Linked DNA regions of Homo sapiens: all the other regions are reported to be linked to region 1. The links are microRNA targets in miRTarBase. Many come from high-throughput screens and were not tested one by one. Region 1 holds a microRNA gene; each other region holds the end of a gene's coding sequence.

Evidence for each region. Region 1 holds the annotated microRNA hsa-miR-6817-3p (UCUCUCUGACUCCAUGGCA, at 2,619-2,637, shown strand). A microRNA usually pairs through its seed, bases 2 to 8, with sites in the 3' UTR of a target mRNA and lowers its output. Matches are read on the target gene's strand: a 7mer-m8 pairs with bases 2 to 8, a 7mer-A1 pairs with bases 2 to 7 and ends in A, and an 8mer does both.
Region 2: the mRNA of CABP4 is a reported target of hsa-miR-6817-3p. Seed matches in the 3' UTR shown: 7mer-A1 at 1,785-1,791 and 7mer-A1 at 1,751-1,757.
Region 3: the mRNA of PRCP is a reported target of hsa-miR-6817-3p. Seed matches in the 3' UTR shown: 7mer-m8 at 2,695-2,701, 8mer at 2,640-2,647, 8mer at 2,632-2,639, 7mer-A1 at 2,630-2,636, 7mer-A1 at 2,628-2,634 and 7mer-A1 at 2,626-2,632.
Region 4: miRTarBase lists B4GALNT3 as a target of hsa-miR-6817-3p. Seed matches in the 3' UTR shown: 7mer-A1 at 3,083-3,089.
Region 5: miRTarBase lists ZDHHC22 as a target of hsa-miR-6817-3p. Seed matches in the 3' UTR shown: 7mer-A1 at 2,657-2,663, 7mer-A1 at 2,655-2,661, 7mer-A1 at 2,653-2,659, 7mer-A1 at 2,651-2,657, 7mer-A1 at 2,649-2,655, 7mer-A1 at 2,647-2,653 and 2 more.
Region 6: the mRNA of LIMCH1 is a reported target of hsa-miR-6817-3p. Seed matches in the 3' UTR shown: 7mer-A1 at 1,995-2,001.

What each region holds. Positions count from the first base shown.
Region 1 is chr22:25,453,074-25,457,160 of GRCh38, forward strand. It overlaps MIR6817 (microRNA 6817), which reads left to right and starts at 2,573; the gene lies at 2,573-2,638. It also overlaps the pseudogene CRYBB2P1. RefSeq lists an enhancer at 2,640-2,743.
Region 2 is chr11:67,457,814-67,461,900 of GRCh38, reverse strand. CABP4 (calcium binding protein 4) reads right to left here. Exons shown (of 6, transcript NM_145200.5): 5 at 3,383-3,530; 6 at 149-3,270. The coding sequence ends at 3,242. TMEM134 (transmembrane protein 134) reads left to right here. Exons shown (of 7, transcript NM_025124.4): 7 at 1-191. Among named protein-coding and RNA genes, the nearest start is that of CABP4, 4.5 kb to the right of the region's middle. RefSeq lists enhancers at 1,670-1,719, 1,930-1,979.
Region 3 is chr11:82,821,073-82,825,159 of GRCh38, forward strand. PRCP (prolylcarboxypeptidase) reads right to left here. Exons shown (of 9, transcript NM_005040.4): 9 at 1,864-4,050. The coding sequence ends at 3,834. Among named protein-coding and RNA genes, the nearest start is that of LINC02734, 42 kb to the left of the region's middle.
Region 4 is chr12:560,668-564,754 of GRCh38, reverse strand. B4GALNT3 (beta-1,4-N-acetyl-galactosaminyltransferase 3) reads right to left here. Exons shown (of 20, transcript NM_173593.4): 20 at 1,246-3,412. The coding sequence ends at 3,304. NINJ2 (ninjurin 2) reads left to right here. Exons shown (of 4, transcript NM_016533.6): 4 at 74-459. Among named protein-coding and RNA genes, the nearest start is that of NINJ2-AS1, 68 kb to the left of the region's middle. RefSeq lists an enhancer at 1,505-2,006.
Region 5 is chr14:77,130,154-77,134,240 of GRCh38, forward strand. ZDHHC22 (zDHHC palmitoyltransferase 22) reads right to left here. Exons shown (of 3, transcript NM_174976.2): 3 at 1,117-3,795. The coding sequence ends at 3,530. Among named protein-coding and RNA genes, the nearest start is that of ZDHHC22, 9.6 kb to the right of the region's middle. RefSeq lists an enhancer at 3,635-4,087.
Region 6 is chr4:41,696,824-41,700,910 of GRCh38, reverse strand. LIMCH1 (LIM and calponin homology domains 1) reads right to left here. Exons shown (of 32, transcript NM_001330672.2): 32 at 867-3,751. The coding sequence ends at 3,726. Among named protein-coding and RNA genes, the nearest start is that of LIMCH1-AS1, 6.1 kb to the right of the region's middle.

The DNA.
Region 1 (4,087 bases):
CAACTGGTGTGCCTTGGTGTGCTTTTGAAAAATGTGTGCCCTAAATATAATTTTGGGTTGATTACTTGGCTCCCTCATTTTGTCCATTCGGTTGTCTTTCTATATTTATGCCAGTCAGTGATTGCCTGGATGACTGTAGGTTTTGTTTTATCTATCTATCTATCTATCTATCTATCTATCTATCTATCTATCTATCTATCTATAATATATCCTAATCCTATTATTATTATTATTTGAGACAGGTTATTGCTCTGTCACCCAGGCTGGAGTTCAGCAGTGCGATCTTGGCTCATTGCAGCCTTGAACCTCCCGGGCTCAAGTGATCCTCCCTCCTCAACCTCCCAAGTAGCTGGGACTACAGGTGCGCATCCCCATGCCCCACTAATTTTTTTGTACTTTCTGTAGAGGTAGGGTTTTGCCATGCTGCCCAGGCTTCTCTCGAACTCCCAGGCTCAAGTGATCTGCCTGCCTTAGCCTCCCAAAGTGCTGTGATTACAGGCGGGAGCCACTGTGCCCAGGGCAACCCTGTTTTTTTTTTTTTTTTTTTAAATCAACTTTTATTTTGATTAAATTGCAGCTTAGTTACATGTGAACCTTTGATGACACTGAGGCTTGTGGCCACTGACCCCGTCACCCAGGCAGTGAGCAAAGTGCCCGTCAGGTGGTTCTTCCGCCCACACTCCCTTTCTGCCTCCTTTTTTCCATCTGATAGTCCCCAGTGTCTATTGTTTCCATCTTTATGTTCGAGTGTATTCACTGTTTAGCTCCCACTCATAAGTGAGAACATGCAGTATTTGGTTTTCTGTTCTTGCCTTGGTTTGCTAAACATAATAATCCCCAGGTCTATCCATGCTGCTTAGGACATGATTGTGTGTTTTACTTATGGCTGCGTAGTATTTTTTGGTGTGTATGCGCCACATTAAAAAATCAAATCCACTGTTGCTGGTCATCTAGGATGCTTCCACATCTTTGTTCTTGTGAATGGCACGACCATGAATGCACGAGAGCATGTGTCTTTTTGATAGAAGGATTTATTGTCTTTTGGGTAGATACTAAGTAGTGGAATTGCTGGGTCTGATGGTAGTTCTGTTTTAAGTTCTTTGAGAATCTCTACACTGCTTTCCACAGTGTGAACCTGTTTTCACGTTCCCCAAGGTAGGAGCGTTCCCTTTCCTTTCCTGCCTCGCCAGCATGTTGTTTTGCTTTTGGAAAAATGGCCATTCTGACCAGCGTGAGATGGTATCTCATTGTGTTTGTGAGTTGCATTTCACTGATGATTAGTGAGGTAGTGCATTTTTTCATGTCAGTTGGTCACTTGAACGTCTTCTTTTTCTTTATTTTTATTTTTTATTTTTTGAGACAGTGTCTCACTCTGTTGCCCAGACTGGAGTGCAGTGGCGTGATCTTGGCTCACTGCAACCTCCGCCTCCCAGGTTCAAGTGATTCTTCTGCCTCAGCCTCCTGAGTAGCTGGGATTACAGGTGCCTGCCACTATGCCTAGCTAATTTTTGTGTATTTTAGTAGAGACGGGGTTTCACCATGTTGGCCAGGCTGGTCTTGAAGTCCTGACCTCGTGATTTGCCCGCCTCGGCCTCTCAAAGTGCTGGGATTAAAGGCATGAGCCACCATGCCTGACCAATTTTTTGTATTTTTAGTAGAGATAGAGTTTCACTGGTCTCGAACTCCTGATCTCAGGTGATCTGCCCACCTCAGCTTCCCAGAGTGCTGGGATTATAGGCATAAGCCACAGTGCCCAGCCCCTTGACAACTGTTTTGTAAGGAACCATTGCCTGAAGTAGAATTGCTGGATCAAGACTACTTTTCCAAAAGAGGATAATAAACATGATCTCCTCTTTTGTTAATGACTTAGATCATTCCTCTGAAAAGCCATTATTGCACATTGCTGAAATGTTCGCCTCTGCACTGGTTGGTCCCAGAATGCTAATCATTTTGAGATTTGTGCCTTCTTTCTTCTATTTTCTGCTTTCTTCTATTAGCCATGCCCGACCTGAAAGCCATCCCTTCCTCTTTAATGTACTATTTTTCTTCTAATGTGGATCTACAAAAACAGAGTTTGGGCAGAGTCTAACAACAGGAACAAGAGAAGAAACAGATCCAAAGAGAGGGGCTTTGGGCCCAGAGATGTTCTAGAGTCAGTTCTCAGTGGTGAAGGCTGACTGTGCATCTCTCTTCCTAACTTCACTTGCAGCCGTGTCGTATTGATAGCTTGAAATCTGCCACAGTGGGAGCATTTACACCATGGAAATTGGCAAACGCTGCAAATCAAGAGTGTTAATTTTCGTTTTGTTTTTTGAGAGTTGGCTATTAACTTACCAGCATACTATTGGCTTTAGTGCATGGCGTCTATATATTGGTATTTGTTGCTGGGCCGTTATTTAGACTGCCTTCTTATTTCTTAACTGTGTTCCAGGTGGGTAAAGGCAGCATAGCACTGAGTTCTAGATAACTGAGGGGATTTTGCACTTGGATTTGCTGTGCTAAGGTTTGGGTGGGGCTATTACATCTTGCCGGGCTGGGCAAGAGTGAACCCTAGGGGTCAACATCAGTAGCCAGGATTCTGCCATAGGAAGCTTGGAGTGGAACTGACCTGCCCCCTTTCTCTCTGACTCCATGGCAGCTGGGTGAGCTATGAACAGGCCAACTGCAAGGGCGAGCAGTTTGTGTTTGAGAAGGGCGAGTACGCCCACTGGGACTGGTGGACCAGCAGCCAGAGGACAGACTCAGCAGCCTGAGGCCCATCAAAGTGGTGAGCCCCCTGCCATCATCCTACTTTCTCTCTCTGCCACCTTGGAGCAGGAGGTCCTGGGACCAGGAAGGAGCCCGCCCCTCTAGCATTGTGCCCCTTCTGATTGGTGAGGAACCTCCTCACTGGGTGACCTTGCAAAAGTCATTTTACTTCCCTGAGCCTCAGTTTCTTCATCTGTAAAATGGGCATATTGGTATCTACTGTCCTGAGGTTCCAATGTGCTTATTAGCTTGAGGGTTGTCACACTGCAACTCCAGAAGGCTCCAATCACAAGACTATGAAATGCTCCAGAGGGCACTATTCACATTCTATTTTAGGTGGTTGGTGCCCGCCCCCCGCGCCCAAGGGTTGGGCAACTCCCGTCATTGCTCAATAACCAATAGCCATCAGAAATACTACAAGAAATTATGAGTTTGGGGCTGGAGGAGAAGGTGGTTTAGCTCTTCTTCAAGACTCGTGCCAGTGTGAGTTTTCAGTGCTTCTGAGATCCTGATTCTTACTAGTGTGTGAGAGTGTCAACTCTCAGGAAGGGGACAGGGCCCATCACTGCTCAGTTACACTCTCAAACCCTCCAAGCCCAGTCTAGCTCCTCCCAGGACCTACTGGAAGGTTGGAGAACACTGGACTTTGCACCCCACAGACCTGGGTTCCCAAGTTGGCTGTGCTGCTCCCAGCTGTGTGGCCTTGAGCACGTCATTTGACCTCTCTGTGCCGCACTTTCCTCATCTGCTAAATGGCATAAGAGGATTTTATGTCTGAGGGATAAGGGTTTTATGTGTAAAGGATGAGATGAGATAACTAAGGAAAATGTCATAGGGACAGGAGGATGGGAAGAGATGTAGAAATGAAGAAAAATCAAAGTATCTCAGGTGCCTATTAGAGGCACAGTTAGCCTGTGCATGTGTGTGTGTACATGTGTGGGTGTGCATGTGTGTGCACGTGTGTGTGTGCAAGTGTGCACGTGTGTGCACACATGTGTGGGTGTGCATGTGTGTGTACATGTGTGGGTGTGCACGTGTGCGCGCGCGTGTGTGTGTGCAAGTGTGCGTGTGTGCCTGTATGTGTGCACGCTTGTGTGGGTGTGCGTGTGTGTGTATGTGTGGGTGTTCATATGTGGGTGGGTAGGTAGATCGTAGCCACCATTTATAAAAGAGAAACTTGAGGAGGAAAAAATGACATTTCAGAATCAAACATTCCCCAAAGTGTTGCAGAGTGTCTGTTACATGAAAATGGCCCAGTAGAAACTTAACAAACGGCTGTGATCCAACAGCAGTGGTCATAGACACGTAGTGGGTGCATTGGGAAGAGAGTGATGTGTGG
Region 2 (4,087 bases), not on the chromosome of region 1:
TTCCCATCATTAGAAGTCTGCGTTAGGAATCAGCAAGGTATAGTCCACAGAGTGGTTTTTATATTTTGTAATGGTTGGAGAAAAGTCAAAGAATAATAAGATTTTATGACATAAAATTATATAAAATTCAAATTTCCATGTCAATAAATGAAGTTTTACTGTTATTTATTAAAATTTCTGATATAGCCACACTCATTTGTTGACTTGACTTTGCACTACAAACTTCAACAGCAGAGTTGCGTGAGCAGCTGCAACAGAGACCAAAGCCTCAAAGCTGAAAATAATTATTCTCCAGCCCTTTACAGAAAGTTTCCCCACCCTTAGTCTACATGAACACTTTGACAGAACACCGTGAATCTGACTTTTCTCTCCAGTTATTTATAAGATTTGCTTTTTATATTCTGTGGTTTCAATGGGATATATCCAGATATATATTTATTTTTATTTACCCTACTCTGACTTCAGTTTGTTCCTTCAATCTGGGGAGTTGAAGTCTGTGGAAGTCTTTATGGAAAATTTTCAGCCATTATCTCTTTGGTTATTGCTTCTTGTTCATTCTCTATGTATGTCCTCCGTCTGAGACTCCCAAGGACTTATCTGTCTTTTTCTTTGAGACAGGGTCTCTTGCTCTGTCACCAAGGCTGGAGTGCAGTGGCACGATCACTGCAGCCTCCAACTCCTGGGCTCAAATGATCCTCTCACCTCAGCCTCCTGAATAGCTGGAACTACAAGCATGAGCCACTACACCCAGCTTATTTTTTTATTATTTTTTTTAAGAGGCAGGGTCTTGCTGTTAGGCTGGTCTCAAACTCCTGGCCTCAAGTGATCCTCCTGCCTTAGCCTCCCAAAATGCTGGGATTACAGGCATAAGCCACCACACCCAGTCTTCCAGTGACCTTTTTTTTTTTTTTTTTCCGAGACGGAGTCTCGCTCTGTAGCCCAGGCTGGAGTGCAGTGGTGCAATCTCGGCTCACTGCAAGCTCCGCCTCCTGGGTTCACGCCATTCTCTTGCCTCAGCCTCCCTAGTAGCTGGGACTACAGGCGCCCGCCACCACGCCCAGCTAATTTTTTTTTGTATTTTTAGTAGAGATGGGGTTTCACTGTGTTAGCCAGGATGGTCTCGATCTCCTGACCCTGTGACCCGCCCGTCTCAGCCTCCCAAAGTGCTGGGATTACAGGCGTGAGCCACCACACCCAGCCTTCCAGTGACTTTTAACTACCCTGTAATATTTTCCATCCTTTTGTCTCTCAGTGTTACATTATAAGTGATTTCTTAGATATAGCTTCCAGTTCATTAATCTTTAAATTGTGTTTAATCTGCTGTTTAGCTTATCCATTATTTTTTCATTCCAATGGCTGTGTGTGTGTGTGTGTGTGTGTGTGTATATATAAAATATACTTTATTTTTTTAACAGAAGCCATGGTTTGTTTTTTTCTTTTTGACGGATTCTCACTCTGTTACCCACGCTGGAGTGCAGTGGTGCGATCTCGACTCACTGCAACCTCTGCCTCCTGGGCTCAAGTGATCCTCCCACCTCAGCCTGTAGAATACCTGGGACCACAGATGCAAGCACCACCACGCCTGGCTAATTTTTGTATTTTTAGTAGAGACAGGGTTTCACCATGTTGCCCAGGCTGGTCTCGAATTCCTGAGCTCAAGCAACCCACCCACCTTGGCCTCCCAAAGTGCTGGGATTCCAGGCATGAGCCATGCGCCTGGCCTGTTGGGTTACTTTTTAAATCTTCCGGTTCTCTCTTCATACTATCCTGTTACTGCATGTTGATCTCTCTTCCCCTTTTAGCCGTCTTTTATTTGCATGTATCTTGTGGTCTCTTAGGCGGCTGTATTATGTACACTGAGATGCCAGTCCTCTTGTTTTTGTCTCTGTCTCGTCTCCTTCATGGTGGTTTCTTTACTTTTATAATCAGTATGGTTTTTTTGTTTTGTTTTTGAGACGGAGTCTCGATCTGTTGCTCAGGCTGGGGTGCAATGGTGTGATCTCAGCTCACTGCAGCTCCACCTCCCGGGCTCAAGCGATTCTCCTGCCTCAACCTCCGAGTAGCTGAGATTACAGGTGCATGCTACCTCGCCCAGTTAATTTTTGTATTTTTAGTAGAGATGGGGTTTCACCATGTTGGTCAGGCTGGCCTCAAACTCCTGACCTCAGGTAATTCACCCGCCTCAGCCTCCCAAAGTGCTGGGATTACAGGCGTGAGCCACCACTCCCAGCCCAATAATCTGTAATTTTTATCACAAGTTCCCCTTTGGGAGCGGCAGGGTTTTTTTCCAGTTTTTCACACCCTGGAGAGAGACTACACGCCTGCTTGAAGGGCAGGCCCTGGAGTTCCAGGCTCTTTAGGGCAGCTGTTTCCACTCTGGGCCCTGAACATCTGTATCCTTGCCACTTTCTATGACTGGTCAGTGCAGACAGATTAATATCTTAGCCTTTGGAGACCCTGGAATATATCCGGGGGGTTTGTTTCTTGCTCCCCAGACTCATATGGTTCTTCTGTCACTCATGGTTGTAGGAGTCCAGGCGGCCAAGCCTCCATCCAGATCTGAAACCCCCACAGCGTCAGCTCCCTCTTACAACCCCAGCTTTGATTTCTTTGTCTTTGATACATGGAGCCATCCCTTTCTTTCTTTCAAGCTCACTTTTTTTACACTTGGGTTTTTTGGTTTTTTGTTTGTTTTTTTGTCTTTTATTTTTCCTTTTTGTGGAGAATGGGGTCTCAGTATATTGCCCAGGCAGGTCTTGCACTCCTGGGCTCAAGCTATCCTCCCGCTTCTGCCCCCTGACAGCTGGGCTTACAGGTGTGAGCCACTGCACCCGGCTCAAGTTCATTAAAAAAAAAAAAAATTATAAACATAAGTAGTGGAAGGGGTCCAGCCATCCTCTCCATTCATCATGCCACTGGGGGGTCCCCACTGAATGCTGCCAGTGCCAGGGAACTCCCTACCTCCCAGAGGTCTGGAGAGACCCAAATCTTGCTCACACTGAGGAACGGTGGGCAGCTGAGAGCAGGTCTTCTCCAGGCAGCTTGAGTAGGAGGAGGTAAGGATGAGGGTGGGCAGGTAACATAACAAGCCAACATTGAGGCCAGGTGTTTTCAGGGATAGAAGTAGTCTGGGGGCTGCTGGGTCTCCATCTCCATCCTGGAGGCTCCTGGGGGAGGCCTGCAGCCTGGGTCTGGCTGGTGTCTGGGGCCGCAGGGGCAACAGATATTCCCTCCTGGAGCCTCAGTGGCGGGAGAGCATCATCACAAACTCTGCGGGAGAGAAGGGCAGGGCTTGGGTCAGTCCACGTCAGGGATCCCAGGAGGTGCTGGGCTCAGCCTAGGCCCTGGAAGCACGGGAGGGTTTTCCGGGAAGGAGACTCACCGTCAAAGTCTACGGTGCCATCCCCATTGAGGTCCACTTCTCGGAGCATCTCGTCCAGCTCAGGACCCGCCAGCGGCTCCCCGAGCAGAGCCGGTACCGCCTCCCGCAGCTCCGCCACCGTAATTCGTCCATCCCTGTCCCTGTCAAACTAAGGTCCCCGCAAAGCTCAGCCCCTCCCACCCAAAGCTGCCTCAGCCTCAGCCAGCTCCACTCTTTTATTTTTTATTTTATTTTATTTTATTTATTTTTATTTTATTTTTTGAGATGGAGTCTTGCTCTGTCACCAGGCTGGAGTGCAGTGACGCAATTTCGGCTCACTGCAACCTTCGCCTCCAGGGTTCAAGTGATTCTCCTGCCTCAGCCTCCTGAGTAGCTGAGATTACAGGTGCCCACCACAACCCTTGGCTAATTTTTGTATTTTTAATAGAGATGGGGTTTTGCCATGTTGGCCAGGCTGACCTCAAACTCCTGACCTCAGGTGATCTGCCCACCTTGGCCTCCCAAAGTGCTGGGATTGCAGGCGTGAGCCACCGCGCCTGGCCAGCCAGTTCCACTCTTACCGCTGCCTGTACCTAGATGCTCCCCTGCCCACCATCTCTGCCCATGCACACCTTCCACACCCTCCCACACCAAGGTGGTTTGCCTCCTGCTCCAGGAAGTCCCCCTGGACGGATCCTCTAGCTGGTAGTGATCTGAACCATCTCT
Region 3 (4,087 bases), not on the chromosome of region 1:
TGGGGCCATTAGATTAGAACATTTAGCAATTAATCTCTATTTTCCTATTAGATTGCAATTAATGTCCTAATAAGCTCAACTCTTCGTAACATTTATAATTGTACCAATTCATTGTATAACTTGACATTTCGTGTCTTTCTCCCAGCAGAACACAAACCTTATTAAATTAGGTGCTGTGTTTGCTTTTTCGCCATTGCATTTTTTAGGTTTTAGACCAATGCCTTATGCCTAGGAGATGCTCTGTTAAGAATAGAAAAAGCTGGCCAGGCGCGGTGGCTCACGCCTGTAATTCCAACACTTTGGGAGGCCGAGGCGGGCAGATCACGAGGTCAGGAAATCGAGATCATCCTTGCTAACACGGTGAAACCCCGTCTCTACTAAAAAAAAAAAAAAAAAAAAAAAAAAAAAAAAAATTAGCCGGGTGTGGTGGTGGGCACCTGTAGTCCCAGCTACTCCGGGGGCTGAGGCAGGAGAATGGCGTGAACCTGGGAGGCGGAGCTTGCAGTGAGCCGAGATCGCGCCACTGCACTCCAGCCTGGGCAACAGAGCGAGACTCCGTCTCCAAAAAAAAAGTTGTATTCTCAATCACCATTTTGGAGAGTCACATACTATTTACAGATAAACGAAGCAACTATTTAACTTCATTTGTCCCATTATTTTCCACACTTGCTCAACTATAGGTATAAGTCTTTCTACTACACAAGTTATTGGCATTTTGTTGGATACCTGTGCTCCAAGAAACACTGTGTGATAGATGTCGTGTGATTGAGTTGCCTGAACTGCTTCCCCAATCCTAAGAAGTACACCTTTGTAACCATGTTTTCATGGCCCTGTTCTTTCCTAACCACCTGAGAGTTGTGCATTTGTGAGGTATTGCTCCCTCAGAGGGTCGAGGACACCATTCTAAGAAGTCATTATGGGCATTGTGCGAGTAGAGAAAAGTAAGCTGGTCTGTAGAGGGAGAATAAAGCAGTCATGGGAAGAGAAGCATTAGGCAGGGCTCCCACACTCAAATGAGTCAGGCAGGATGACAGAAGTAAGATAACTGAATTCAAATTCAAATTCCAGATTCTTTCAACTAGGGGCTCTCAAAAGTGTGATGCTCCAGCATCACCTGGGAACTTGTTAGAAATGCACCTTCCCAAGATCCACCCCAAGACATGTTAGAAACTCTGGGATGGGGCTCAGCAATCAGCATTTTTACAAGCCCTTTTGGGTAATTCTGATGCACGCTTTAGACTGCCTATCGAACTGTAGACATCTGACGAACAAATCCAAACCACAGTCTGACAATGGGTCACCTCTGTTGAAAGTGAAACAGAACACAGCAGTACTGATTTTTAATGACTTTCCAGACCCTAGTTCTAGTTCCCCATGATTCCTGGTAACCCAAGTCCTGGAGCTGATCTGGCAGTTTCAAAACATTTCTTTTCCTTAAGCTGGTTTTGTGGGCTTTTGTTGCTTGAATCCAAACAAAAATAAAACTGTACCAGTAAAATGAAGCAAACAAAATTTGCCAAAAAGGAGCCCCAGTTCTGCCCCAGTTTTGCCAAAAAGGAGCTGTGAGGCCGTAGATAAGTTCCTTCTCTCTAAGCTACAATTCTATCCCTTACAAAATGATGCAGTTGAACTGGATATCTCAGGGGCCTTCACCCTCTACTATGCTGGCTTAGACACTGGCTCCTCTGGATAACCTCTTGGCGCTACAGATTCCTTATGAAGGTTCTCCTAAGTTACTTTAGTTCTACCCATTGACTCCAGGCAGTTAAAGTAACAAAAACAGAAAATAAAAAGCACCCAATTCTTTCTAAGCTCTTGGGAGCTGAAAAAAATAAAAATAGAAAGCACTCAAGTCTCCATGTCTCTCTTTCCCTGTCAGTAAAAAGTGCAGTTTTATTAGAGGGATGCTTTAAATAATAAGGCTTATCTGACACTCCAATTCTTTTTCATGTTAAAATTAAACCTTAGCATATTATAATTATACTCACTTCAATTAAGGCTGCTATCTATATTCCTAAAATGCATACAGTAATAGGATACAATTATGCTTGCCAAAAAATTCTATTTTTTGCAGTTTGTTTCTTCAGAATAATGTAACTCATCCAAATAATCAACATCAAATAAAATGGCAAAGTATTTTAAAGATTCTACACAAGGGAAAAACCCTAAAATCGTAAAATAAATTGTAAGAATATCCTCTATTGAGCCCATAAACCCTGCATTATTTAATTTCTTAGTTGACAAAGAATAAAAACTAGTATTGTTTTGGCCCTTAAATTCCCACCCAAATCGATTGTTCTGTGATGCTGAAACAAAATAGTTACCAAATGCTTTGATAGACAACTCATTACAATGAGAACTGAAGGCTCCCAAAATAAGACAAAGATTTTCCTGTATCTCCCAGATGCCAGGGAAAGTAAAGGAAATATTTCAGCTTTCCATCCCAAGAATGAACTCTATATATGCCCTTAAAAAAAAAAAATGCCATAAAAATGATCAAGCTCAAGGTACAGTTTTTTAAAAGCAGAAAATGTTCCCAAGGCAGGGTGAAGAAAAAAAAATTATTGAGAGAAAATGAAAAGAAACAAGGAGGAAGAAATCTTTCAACAGAGTAGAAACTGTTAGTCTCTCTCTCTCTGTCTCTCTGTGTCCCTGAAAGGTTTTGATCCAACCCTATTTGTTATCCTAGAAAAGCTCTCTGAAGAAAGGTCTCAGTGTAAGAACTGCTTGAAAGAAGCCAACCCCTTGGAAATAGGAATGGCTTGGCCATTTATTAATGTCAAATATGCTGCCTGCATGAATTAGTCAGCTTGTCTTTTGGAAGTCATACAGAAAAGTTCTTGTGCACCTGCCTGTTAGTGTCTAACACTTCTGGTTTTAATGACAGCAGTAACAACTATCAGAAAATAAAATTTTAAAAATTTAAAAGCTGAATATTACTATATTCTACTTTTGGAATAGCTGATTCATCAATTTTTAAAGGCTTCTTACTGAAATATAATTAGTGACTACAGCATAAAGCTTGCTCAGATTTAAAAAGACAAAACAGAGTCATTTTCCTAAACTGGCAGAATTCAAACAAATTAAAACTGACCTTAGAAACAAAGAGAAATGGAGCAGAAAAAGGCCAGATTTCTTACTGGCAGTACCACAGTGGCCAACATCCCAGAACTAAGAAAAGCTGCCAAGTGGAAGAGAAAAAATTAAAGGACTTTCCAAAAACAGCTAAGCCCAGTGCACACAGCATTTCCATCAGCCGGAGTTGAAGTGAGCTTCAGAAGCAACACACAGGTATAAGGTCCAGCTGTATTATTTATTTACAGCACAGTTCAAAGTCATTAAATCCGGTACAAAAGAAATGGCTCTCACTTCCTGGATTGGCACCAGACATCCTACCAGCTGCAATTACATCATTTTTTATCTATCTTCTGCTTTTACTTTGTGTAGGGTAGGGATGGGGACTTACAAATGGGCCAAAGACACTTCAACCTCAAAACCAAAGAGAAATCTCTGCTTGCAGAGATACAAAGAAAGTAACTCTCCCTCTTATGAAAAGCAACCAGGAACTCTACTCCAGTTATGAGGGCCACTGATGGTGTGGGAGAGCTATCAAGAAGATTCTTCCTAGACGTGGTGCAAAGACAGTGAGAACCCAGGAAATCACATTCATGGGACACTTGCTCTTACCGTCATCACCCTCTATTCTATCTCAACTTTGGCCCCATCAAATCTAATGATAAACAAAAGAAGGTAATTACATGTAGAAAATCAAAGTGAATGGGAATGTGGTGGTGTGAACATAAAAGAAGAAATTGAAAACAATCAAAAGTTTCTCAGTGCTGCTTTCCCGCACTGTCATAGAAATCTCTGATCCAATTCTTCATATGTCTAACTTCCAAGGAGCGGGCTAACAGCACAGACATAGGATCCAAGGCATTCTTGGTGCGGAGATCTAAGTGGTGGGCCCCCTCTGAGATGGTGACTGCAACCAGAGTGTCTGTGATATCCTTAGTTACTCCACCTCCTGACCAGGGGTCTAGTTCACCATTGCTGCAAGTGAAAAAAAGAAGAAAAAATAAAGTTGTTA
Region 4 (4,087 bases), not on the chromosome of region 1:
TGGGCATGCTGAAGGTTGAGGGGCATTGATCTGGCCTGCCATCCTCATTGCCTCTTCTCTGCTTCCTCAACAGGTTCTGGGCCTGGAACTTCTGCCTCCTTCCTCCGTGATCTGCCAGGCTCGTGGGCACTTTCCACAGCCCAGGAGAGCTTCTGAAAGGACAGTATAGCTGCCCTTGCTCCCTACCCACAGCACCTGAGTTAAAAAGTGATTTTTATGTTATTGGTCTAAGGGACTTCCATCTTGGTCTGAAGTCCTGAGCTCAGACGCAGGTACTGCCAGCCATACCTTCCTGGTAGCATCTGCTGGACCTAAGTAAGGCATGTCTGTCTAAGGCCAAGTCTGCCCGGCTTAAGGATGCTGGTTCTGACTCTACCCCACTGCTTCCTTCTGCTCCAGGCCTCAATTTTCCCTTCTTGTAAAATGGAATCTATATCTATAAAGGTTTCTTCAAATCCACTCTTGAGTCCACTTACTTGTCTAGTCCTGCAGGCTCAGGCATCCAGGCTGGTCTCCATCTGTGCCTTGGAGAGGGCTCAAGAGAGCAAACCCCAGACCTGGAGGGTGGGAAGGCTTTTAAATTACTTCCTCCTCTGTGGGTTCTGCTCGGAGCCAATGTTCCTGGCCCAGATGTCTTGCGCTTATCGTCATCTGCCCCATGAACTGTAGATTAGTCCATTGCAGGTGGATGCACATATGCACAATCTTCTCCACGAACCTGCTGTAAGCTATTCTGGCTTTCAGTCTCAGCTTCCCTTAGGCATGTGTTTAAGGACTGCAAACTCATTTTGATCTTTGCCTGGGCCAAATATAACGAGGAAGGTAAATCTGTAAAGCATTAGCAAAGCATTGCCAACTCAGAAACAGAAATGATTTTTAGAAGGTCTGCCAGTTTAGAAGCAGCCACTCGTTGGCTTCTCTCCACTGCTCACCAAACCGTTCTGGCCCTATATCTAGCCTTCTCCACCCAGCGTATCCATAGCTTTCCTCGGCTAAAACCACCAACCTCCATTAATCTGCTGAACAGAAAATGCCTAGTCTATTACACGGTGAGCTGCTCAGACAGGAACAATGTTGTCTTCTTCCTGAGTAAACCGCAGTGCAGAGAAGGCCATCTCACACACAGCAGGCATCACACTTGTGGTAAGGGTGGAGGGTGGTGTGGGAGGGTCCTTGGCACGCCCACCTGGGCCCCTCAGCCCAATCCTTTACATCCGTGAAGAGCAACAGGAAAAGACAAGCACCTTTTTTTTTTTCTAAGAAGTTGCTGTATTTAATGCTTCCCCTCCCACCATCCCACACCCTCTCCTACCCAAGACATTTCTCTAGGGAGTAGGGGCCTTGCCCGGCCCTTCCTCTTAAGGCAGATGGTGTGGAGGTAACATCAAACGCAAGGCACTGGCCCAGGGCGCAGGGGTGTGGGCAGGGCAGGAGGCTGGGCTGGCTCCTAGTCATTGGAAGTGAAGCAGGTGGGCAGTTTGGGCTGGTTCCAGCCTTCCAGTGCAATGCCCGAGGACGAGAGTGGTCCCAGAAAGAAACTGGCAGCCCCACTGGCCAACTGCAGCCCTAGCCTATGCCCCACCATCCTTCTCCAGGGGCCAGTCGGCCTCAGCAGGGACCAGAAAAAGCCACAGCCCAGGGAGCAGGTATGGCCTTCCTAAGCCACAATCTCAAAAGTCTCTGTCCTTCATGATTCCTTAAAGGGAGGCAGGGATTCTCCCCGACCCCCCAGAAGGTTCTCCACGGGCTCCATTCTCCCATGTGCCAAACTCGTGCTCTCGGGGAATGCAGAGCCCACTAGGCAGACCCTGCAGCTCCAGTGCCGTGGTTTGGACCGTCACAGCCTGGAGCGCGGGCTCAGTGGCCTGGTCTTCTGGGCCCCGCCGCACCTCCCCCAGCCCTGTGCTCACCTCCCTAAACAGACTCTGGAGTTCAAGATCCAGTGTCCAATGCACCATGGGTGAATTCACAGCAGTGGTGGAGGCAGCAGCAGCAACAGAAAAACCCCCAGCCACAAAAGCACCGGGGTTATTAGTGCAAGAGAAGTACAAGGTCTCCAGGTGACAGAAAGGGTGGCATCGACTAAAAAGGCTAAGGGCTATTTTCCCTGAAACTGCCCCCCTCTTCAGTTCCTCCTGCCCCCACTCCTCTCCCTGCCTCCAGGGGATATCTCAGGGCAATGTCCTCACCTCCCCAAACCTCTCATCCCGCCCCCTTCTTATCCTGCTCCCTGTCCAGGGTTTTGCCCCCGTACACCCTTTCCTCTTCTTCCACTCAAGGCCGGGTGGCCAGGGCTCTCCCTGCAGAAGGGCAGGTCTGCAGTGGAGCTGGACTGTGAGGCTCACAGCTTCCACTTCCCTTTTCGTCCCTTTCTGTCCAGCCCCCACCCGCTTCTTGCCTAAGGAAATTGACAGATATGTCCACATCCTCTTTACCTCTTCTCCATGTCCTCTCGGGAGGCCTTACCCACAGGCACGCCGGTAAGGGAAAGGGCTTCTCTCCCCTGCCTTCATCACCCTGCCTGTTCTGCAGGCCTCAATGTCCAGTGCCAGGGAGTGGCAAGCCCCCTGCCCGCCAGCTCCCCACCTCCCAATGCCCAAGCACCAGAAACAGCCCGTTCTGTGCTTCTGGTCTGACGTGAGCCATCCGGAGGAAGTTAATGCCCTAATCAGTGGCCAGCTGTTTGGTGGCTACTGGGAGATGTGTGTCTCTGGAAGGCACGAGCCTGGGGTGGAGCAGAGACCTGCCCCACGTGGGACCAGTCCCGCGGCCAGGGACAACGCCCAAGGGACATAGGAGTGGGCGGGAGGCCTGCACGTGGGGACAGTCCCTCAGTGCACAACCTCACCCCCGCTCTGGACAGCAGTTTCGGTTTTCTGTTTTTAAAATCCCCGCCCCCCAATAAAATATGTCCACTAGAAGAGGGTCTGGTGGTCAGCGCTTGGCGTGAGGAGCGCTTGGGGGATGTGGGCGTGCACCTTCATGGATGAGGATGGTGTCGCTCAGTCAGATCTCTCCTTCCTGACCCGTCCTTCTCAGGAGCTCTTCCCGTTCTCGACTGAGCAAGTGGTCCCTCCTGGCCTCTCTCTCAAAGTCCTCCCTTCTGAAGGCCCAGGAGGCAGAGACAGGAGCCCCGGAACCTGCCTCTGTGAGGGGACAGCTCCAGGTGGAGTGGGCCGTCAGCTTCGAGGCCTCTTGGGGTCCAGCCGTCACCCCACTCCCCATCCCTGAACAGTAGCAGGGCCCTGGGGAGCCACTGCTAGTCCAGAGCGGGGAGTGCTGGGCCCCGCGGACACCCTCCGGCTACAGCGTCTTCATCTGGCGACGGCTCCACATGCCTCGCTTGGAATGGAAATGATGGAAGAAATTCCTGAGGGAGAGACGCTCCACGTCCAGGCCCGCTTGGAGTATCCTGGAGGAGGAGAAACACAGATGAGCCAACAGAAGCACAGAAGGCAGCTGGGGGGCCCCTCCCCATCGACCACAGACCCTCTGTTCGCTCCCCACGGGGCAGGGAAGGCAGGTGCAGTGGACGGCTGTGGGCTTTGAAGCCAGGCAGCCTGGGTTTGGATCCCAGCTGCATGACTGGGTATGTCACGCCTTCTTTCAGAGCCTGTCTGCTCATCTCTAGGAGGACGATTATCACATACGTGTAATGAGAGGATAATGTGTGATATAGAATTCTATCTATCTAATATTAGAGTAGACATACTATATACACATCAGAGGTGGGGAAGACGAGAAGGATGGATGCTGAGGGCTCAGCACGGCTCCTGGCACACTCTGAGTGCCCCATAACTGGCGCCCAGCCTCCAGGGCACACGTCATAGACGGAGGAAGGCAGGGCTGCTGCACTGAGACACCTGGCGCCTAGGCCCTCCCCAGGCCTTTTGTGCATGTGCAGCCTGCAGGGTGTCCCTCTCACAGGGAGGCTGCACTTCTGGCAGGGCTGAGAGTGGCCGAACTGGATGCCTGAGCCTCCGAGGAGGCAGGAGGTTCAGGGCTGTACAGGAGCCGTGCATGGCAGCAAAAGCCCAGCACAGAGATCAAGGTGGAGGTGACTGCTGGACCCGGCTTCCCAAATCAA
Region 5 (4,087 bases), not on the chromosome of region 1:
GAGAGTGGTCTCATCTGTTTTCTAGCCCCACGATGTGCAAAGTGCAGTCCTGGGTCCAGCATGGGAATAAGAGATGTGGAGTAAGCATGTGAGCGCTAAATCTGCATCATTCAGGCAATATTCATTGAGCACCTACTGTGTGCCTAGCCCCTGCTACGCATCAAGGATATGACAGTGACCAAGGCAAGTGTGGTGCCTGCCCCATGGAGTGTAGGCAGCCCATGTTCTAGAATGTGCTGAGGATTCACCACAGCTCCATTCACCCAGCACCTGCAGCAAAGCTGTTCGCCTGTTGGTGTGTGTTCAGGGAACATACACCACCATGACACTCGGCTAGGCTGAGGGTTCTGCAACAGCTCTTTGCAGTTGTATCCTTCCTCAGTCCAGGCCTTGTGTCTTTAGGATGAATCAGAGGCCTTGCTCATTCGTCTGCTCAGGGCCCACTGCCTGAAAGGCTCAACACCCTCCCAACTGTCCCCAGGGCTGGGAAGCCTGAGACCTCCAGATGTTGCAGGGCCTGAGAGGGCAGGGGGCCTGACTGATCCCTAGGAGAAGCTGGCTCTGTCTGTGGAGGAGCAGCAGAGGGACTCTCTTCACTCTTTTCCTCACCTGTCTTCTGATATGGGGAGGAGAGGGAGAGGAGGAGAAAGAATGGAAGGAGAAGGAGGAAAAGGGAAGTTCCTAGGTAAGATATTCCATCTCTGGTCCCTGTGGGTCCATGGACCCCAGCACTGAAGCCTCTGGTTACCAACCCAGCACTGAAGCCTCTGGTTACCAACCAGAGGTGACACCTATTTAGCACCACACAGCCCAGCCCTGACAAATCACAATGGACTCTGACTGAGGGCTGCAGCAGGGCTGGGGGGCCCCATGCATGTGCCAGGAATGATCACTTTAGTTGCTGGATTGTGGAGTGAATCCAGGGTCCCCAGGGAGGAGCAGGGGCAGAAGGGGTAGGATACTCAGAGAATCTGAGCCATGGTTGTTTACCAACTTTCTTAGTTGTAAGAATTTCTTAGTATTTTCAATACTTATTTTAAATATTTGAATAGCTAGTATGGCTGCATCAGTACAGTCCAGCCCTGCTACCAACAGTGCCCATACAATCATATCAAATCCAATTTAAAACCATATATTTTATTGATGTTCTTCAAGGACAATACAGGGCCATGTGTACAAATGCTACTCAAGTCTCACATCTGGCAACCTCCCCACCGTCATCCCCCATTGACCAGTCTGCAAGCAGCCAACATCCTGTAGGTCTCCCTGTTGCCCTTCCCCAGGATGTCAGGCCTCACCGTGCTGAGCCTTCAGGAGGCTGGAAATAGCAGGGCTGGCTTCTAAGCTTGAGCTCTGGAGCCAGGAAAGAGTCAAGGCCAAAATTGCCCAGATCTTCCCCTCCTCCCTCTCCCTCCCATTGCTTAAGTATGGCCAGAATTGTGGGTGAAAATGCCCCCAGCGACTCCTCCATTGAGGCAGCCTAGGCTTCCCCTCTTCAGCCATCTCTATCACATTCTTTATTTCCAAATGACCTGCCCCACCAACCACCAAGATGGCAGAGTGACCATTTTGCAGGGAGTGTGAATCAGTGCACAGACGGCAGTGACAAGGTGCCCCTGATGGCATGAATCTTGTCATCCTGTTCATCACTGCATTGCCAGTGCCTGGAAGAGGCTGGGAACGTAGTTGGCACTCAATAAATATACGTAGGATGGATGAGTGAAGGAATGAGTATGGGAGGGAGAAATGTGAGCAGGTGGAGCCAATACTACATTAGCTCTCTAGGGGGTGTGAAGGCAGAACCACAGTAAAGTCCTCCCAATCTCTGCTCAAGAACCCAGGCTGTTGCGCAGCTATCAGCGGGTCACTGCAGTTGGCGGTTGGACATTGCAGGGCATGGATTCAGCACTGCTGCCTGCATGGATGTCATATTGGCTTTGGGACCCAGTCAGGAGGGGGCACTTGTGTTGTCCCTACTCCCTTATATGCCCCAGAGGTCTGGTCCTCTAGGTTTCAGAAAACACACAGCAGTGCCTCCACCGGAGTCAGTCAGATGCGCAGGGATGGTCTGGGAATTGCACCCTTATATTCTGGTCATCTCCACTCCTCAGCCTTAGCTCACCACTGCCCCCCATGCCCTGCCACTGACAATGACACTGCTCCATCTCCCTGTCCTCAAATGTCAGTCCCCTCAACCACCCAGGTAGCCCTGTCTCTGCAGAGACTCTCTCTTCAGTGGCTGGGTTGGGTCCTGATTTTCAGACCCCTCCCATGCCCACACTCCCCTCTAGGAAAGCAAATATCTCACAGGCATCTCTGCAGATCTTGCCTCTGGGTCCAGCAATCACAACCAGGACATCAGAACCTTGGGGTTGGAAGGAATGTGTAAGCTCACCTAGAATGACCCTGTACAGAAATCCCTTCCACAGCATGCCTGGCAGACGACTGCCTAGACTCTGCTGGAATACCTCCAGTGATGGGGCACTCACTACCTTCACAGGCAGCCATTCAAACATTGAAGAGTTTCAGCTGCTGGAATGCCCTTTGTATAGGGCATAAATGAACCCAATTGTCCCTCTCACTTCTCCCTTTCCCCTAGGCATTATTCCTATATGTTTCTAACAACACTTCTCACCACCACCCATCTCTCTCTCTCTCTCTCTCACACACACACACACACACACACACACACTTCCATATGGTTATACAGTCGAATATCCCCTTCATTTATCAGTAATTATCTTTCCCTGTCCCTTCTTCCTTGCCTTCCCATCATCTGGCAAAGACCTGGGGGCTGGAGATCAAGTAGAAAGGCTGGAAGAGTTCCAGGGACAGGAAGCATCCAGCCAGGTCCTGGACTGGGCTGGGCCGGCCAGATGGGGCAGGGTGGACAGGGAATAACATTTGGAAAAAGCAGGCCATTGATTGCTGTCTCCCAGAAAAAGGGTCTTGAACCTGGTGGGGGGTGGTGAGGGAGCAGCAAGCTACTAAGTTCTTTTTCCTACAGAGGGGATGCGGACACACACCCACTCTTTCCCAACTCCCCTAGCAGTTGGCAGAGCTGACTTGGCTGCCTCTTACACGTGGTGATTTTAAACATTTGCCAGCCTCTAGGTCCCAGGGAGTCTCATACCAGCAGCAAGAATCCACTCCCCTCTCCCAACATGGGGGCTGAGAGGAAGGGCTCTAGCAGACAGCAGTGATGAATGAGACACGGTGGAGAATGGATGAGCCAGGAAGAGGGGGAAAGCAGGGATCCCAAGGGGACGGAAAGAAAGCAGAGGCAGCCTAACAGCTAGCAGCCACCTGGCTGGCTCGTGAGGAGCCTAGAAATGCCTGGGGGGACATTTTTCCTCCTTGTCATGATCCACCAGCTCACGCTGTTCTCATGGGTGGAAGGTGAGGGGAAGATGCTAGGACCTTACCAGCACAAGGTTGTAGTGAGTCATGGGTGGAGACAAGGCTGCCATGGTTTTATGCTCAGGAGGAGTCAAGACAGAGACAGAGAGATAAATGACGGGAGTGTCTACTACTTATCCTGCTGCTTGGAGCTCTCACTTCCGACATTGAACATGGGGACCAGCAGGCCCAGCAGCCACCTCTTTCCGAAGACCTCTTGTAAGTTCTTGCGCCAGGGCCGGGCCCTCACTGCCACCCCCTTCCGCACCTGGTGGCGGGTCTGCCCGCGGAGGATCAACAGCAGCTGGTGGCAGCAGAAGCCGGCGCAGGCCAGGCCGATGGCGAACCAGAGGTAGAGCATGAGGATGACGAACATTTCAGAACCCAGGACAGCTCCTGCAGGGCACGGGGAGGGGAAACACCAGAGCCGCTTTACACCCAGGCCACCGGCATAACTGCGATCTAGGCAGGCTTTCCACCGGGAGGGAGGGAGATTAATGAGATTGACGCTACATTTTGTAGCAACCTCAGCGCTGCAGCTGCAGTGAGGGAGAGGAAGGAAGAACCAGCTGCCCTAACTTTTTCTTGGCGCGGATGGCACCTGAGGCAAGAGGGGAAGACTGGAGACATGGCAGAGAAGAGAGCTAAGTTTGATGAGCTTAGCAAGGACAGCCCTCAGCTCCTGGGG
Region 6 (4,087 bases), not on the chromosome of region 1:
AGAGTGCAAGGCAGAATACGTGTATACTTCAGAGAGCCAACAGTGTCAGCAGGATGCTACTGATTCACAGCAGATTCCCTGGCTCCACACCTGAGGAAAAGGCCCTTAGTAAACACACCTTACATATATAATAAGTGGGGAACATTGGGGTAGTGCTGGGGAAAGTGGCAGAATACAGGGACTTCAAAAAGTTTGCCTTGGCTGGGTGCGGTAGCTCATGCCTGTAATCCCAGCACTTTGAGAGATGGACGCGGGTGGACTGCTTGAGCCCAGGAGTTCAAGACCAGCGTGGGCAACATGGAGAAACCCGTCTCTAGTGAAAATACAAAAAACTAGCTGGGTGTGGTGGCACATGCCTGTAATCCCAGCTACTTGGGAAGCTGAAGTGGGAGAATCACCTGAGCCCAGGAGGTCGAGGCTGCAGTGAGCTGAGATTGCACCACTGCACTCCATTCTGGGCAACAGAGTGAGACCCTGTCTCAAAAAAAAAAAAAGAAAAAGAAAAAAAAAGTTTGCCTTGCTTTTTGTCTAGCCAGTGCTGCAAGCTGACCATCATTTGGTTGTTTCAGACGAGTTTCACTGGCATTTGCATGGCCTCTGCTGGTTATTGTGTGTCTCATCTCCAGGAGCTTAAACCCTTCTATAGAAGGCAATTCCTCAGTGACCCCTAAACCAGCCAGTAAGTTTGGTTTGCCTTCAATAGTTGACCTCAACTATGCATCAATAGGTACATGCAAACATCCAGCACTGCCATCATCTGTCTATGTAACCCTGGACCAAAAGCTACAAGAGAAAGCTTGAGTCTCTCTTCCCCATGTAAGAAAACCAACTGCCACCCCTCCAAAAATAATTAATGGAATACAAAGTTGATTTGAGTATTTTATTTATAAATGTACATTTACTATAAAAGCTGTTGCATTTTAGACAACTTGTTGTTTTTATTTTTTACTGTTTCTCAGAGGCATTTTAGAATAAATACTTTAAATGAAAGTTAGTATAACCGATATAGAACACTGGCCCACCCAGAGCAGTAACATCTTTTGGACGGACTCACATATGAGGTGGATCATTTCAGTTTGTTAAATCTTACACTGTGTATAGATAACTATAATATGTATTGCATTAATCACACTACATAGAAAGGAAATGTCATGGAAGTTCGCTAGTGAAAAACAAAAAGTTACCCATTATTTTTATTAAAGAGTAGGGACTAGCTTTTGGAGTATGAGAAAAAAAATCAGATATACTTCCTCAGGAACAATAAATCACTCACTTGCCTCACCTGTTTTTTAAACAAACACATTTACATTATAGCTCAATGGAGCAGAGCATTTTTTTTTTCCTGGGATCTCAAAGATTATTTGAAAAGAAATAGATCATACTCATTATGCTGCATTGGAAAAAACAAGATCTAGTCTGCCTAAGCTGCCATGTAACAGACTCCAAATGAAATATAAATCAAATATAAATAGAAACAGTTGGCAATTAGAATTTAGAAAATGTTGGAGATTATTCTGTGCTGGTGACTAGTGTTCATTATGGGAAAGCACATTTTGCAGTTGGAGAATGGGGCTTTATTTTTCTTGACTCGATTCTAGCTTCAATACATGTACAATGAGCCTCACTAAGAAATATGTATAAATGGGTTTGTGAAACCAGAAGGGAATGTGCAATATTCATGTAATCCTTACATAACGGATGGAGTTGCACATGTAAAAAGTATTCTATAAAAATCGGTTATGAATGACCATATTGTACATGTTTGTGCATTACTAGTGGTACTCTGCTAATATCATGCAAAGTGTAAACATCCACATTATCAAAATATTTAATAAAACATGCAGGTGGATAATCAAAATATTGGACTTGATCTGTACATTTTCAAAACAATTTTTCTTTTTAATTTTTTCTTTTTTTCTTTTTTTATTTTTATTTTTTCCTGTAAAACAGCAAACACCTCCATGAGAAGTCTTGGAAACTTGGAAGTGACTTCATCTCTCTTCAATGTACTGCATCCATAATTTATCGCCATGTGCAACAGCTTTGCGTTTTCTAAGGCACAATTTTTAATGAAATGATGTGTAGATTTCAATCTAATAACAGCTCATCCAAATGACAAATATGGTCGAAATCCCTCCAGTGGCTGAGGAAATTTCTGCACCTATATGGAACCCACATGCAAAGAACCCATCTAGCATGTAATAAATAATCGCTAGCCATACTCAATAAGACACGGAAAAATTATTGCTTACATAACAGAAAAACATCTACTTGACCCCCTTTTATGACTACATCAATCTATTAGGAGTGTATCCATAGTCTACATTCACAAAATGTCATCTTGACTTATTTGCCATTGATTTAAGGCAGAATAAATAGTCCCCCTTTCCCCAGTCTTAACAACAAAAAACAAAAAACCAGCCTGGAGATCTACATTGTGATGCTTTTTAATAACTTGACTCCTTTCTTGGCCAGCTGAAACTCGTCGCACAGGGCAGAAAATAAACCAGCTCTCCACAAGAGTTCCTCTCTAAACTTCTCCATGGGCAAGGTCCGGAGTTCTTGATAGCAAAAAAAGTGATGGAGAATGGAGGAGAGTAGGTATTCATTGAAGTGGGCAGGGCATAATCTGTGCTGTAGGTTCTTGCTGATCACAGACCAGGGGCTGACCACATCATATACCACATAGATTCTATTAAGATGGACTTAACGCTTTTCTTTGGACACCTGTGCTTCAGGCCCTTAAGGAGAACTTGCCAGCAAGGGTGAGCAGTGCTCACACCTAATGATGAACTTATCTCGGTGCCTCATCTTCCATATACCTCATGTTAAGTCTCTTATTGAAGACTCCTAATCTAGTGCCTCGAGAGAAGCAGGCAACAGAGGCCTGATGTCTGACATTGACTCTTTGGAAGATTAAACTTCCTCACAGATTTTGATAATGACTTTGGAAATGATGACTGAAATATTTCCCTCTGCTTTCTTCCTACCTTTGGGCAACGTCCCGGAGTGTAAATCTAGCTGATATTGCAAGGTTTTGCTTTATTTGATGAACCAGCCTATATTAATGACATAACTTCCAAGGTACACAGAATCTAATACTAACGGTGCAATAATTTATTGGTATAATTTCTACCTCCAAAGGTAAGTAACACAAATGTTTCAGGATTACAGTATATATTATCAAACTAGTGTCTTTGCATTAAAAACAAATTATAGCTCAGAGATAGAGCTTGCTGTGATGTTTAGTTTCTGAAATGCATTAAATTTATCCTTCAGTCTTAGAAGACCGTGTGTCTCAAATTGGCATGTCTTGCACTTTCTGCAGCTCAATTCTGTAAACATAAAGTGTTTAATTCCTAGACATTCTAAAACAAAACAGGTTTATTGCATCATTTAGCTAATTCCCAAAGAAGAGAATAACACATTTTAAACCATAAGCCTGTTTGACCATGCTAAAACCTTTTTTGAGCTATTCAGGATCATTACAACCCCATATTCTTTTGTGTATACTGTGCAAATGCAAAAAAAAAAAAAAAACCAAAACAATAAACAGGAAAAACATAAACACTGTGCTACGAAAGAACAGATACCACCTTTCAGAAGAGCCTTTCAGAAATTAGGTAAATGCTGAGAAGCCCCTGAGCTTGGGATTTTGTTAAGCAGTTGCCAGGGGACACTCTCAGTAAAGAAATGGTGAGTGATCCGGAAGCTTGAAAGCCGTGTCACAATGTTGTAGGCTGCCCGGCACCTGTGATTAAAACAAACAACAACAAACAAGAGTGGTAGGCAACATTTCTCGCTTCAGACATTTTAAAACCTCCCTAATGAGCAACTGCCTTTACCAAAGTCTCCTCTTCCTGGGGACCAGAAACTTCTCCCATCCTGCTACTTGAAGTGTGGCCCCAGGACAAGTAGTACTGGCATCACCTGGAGTCTGTTTGAAATCCGGGCTCTTAAGCCGCATTCCAGACCCACTTAACGTGGTGCCCAGGTGATTCACATGCACTGTGAAGTTTGATCAAATGCTCTGGATTGCCCCTAAACCAAAGCATCTCCATCAAGTTTTCTACCTTGTCCTCTGGGG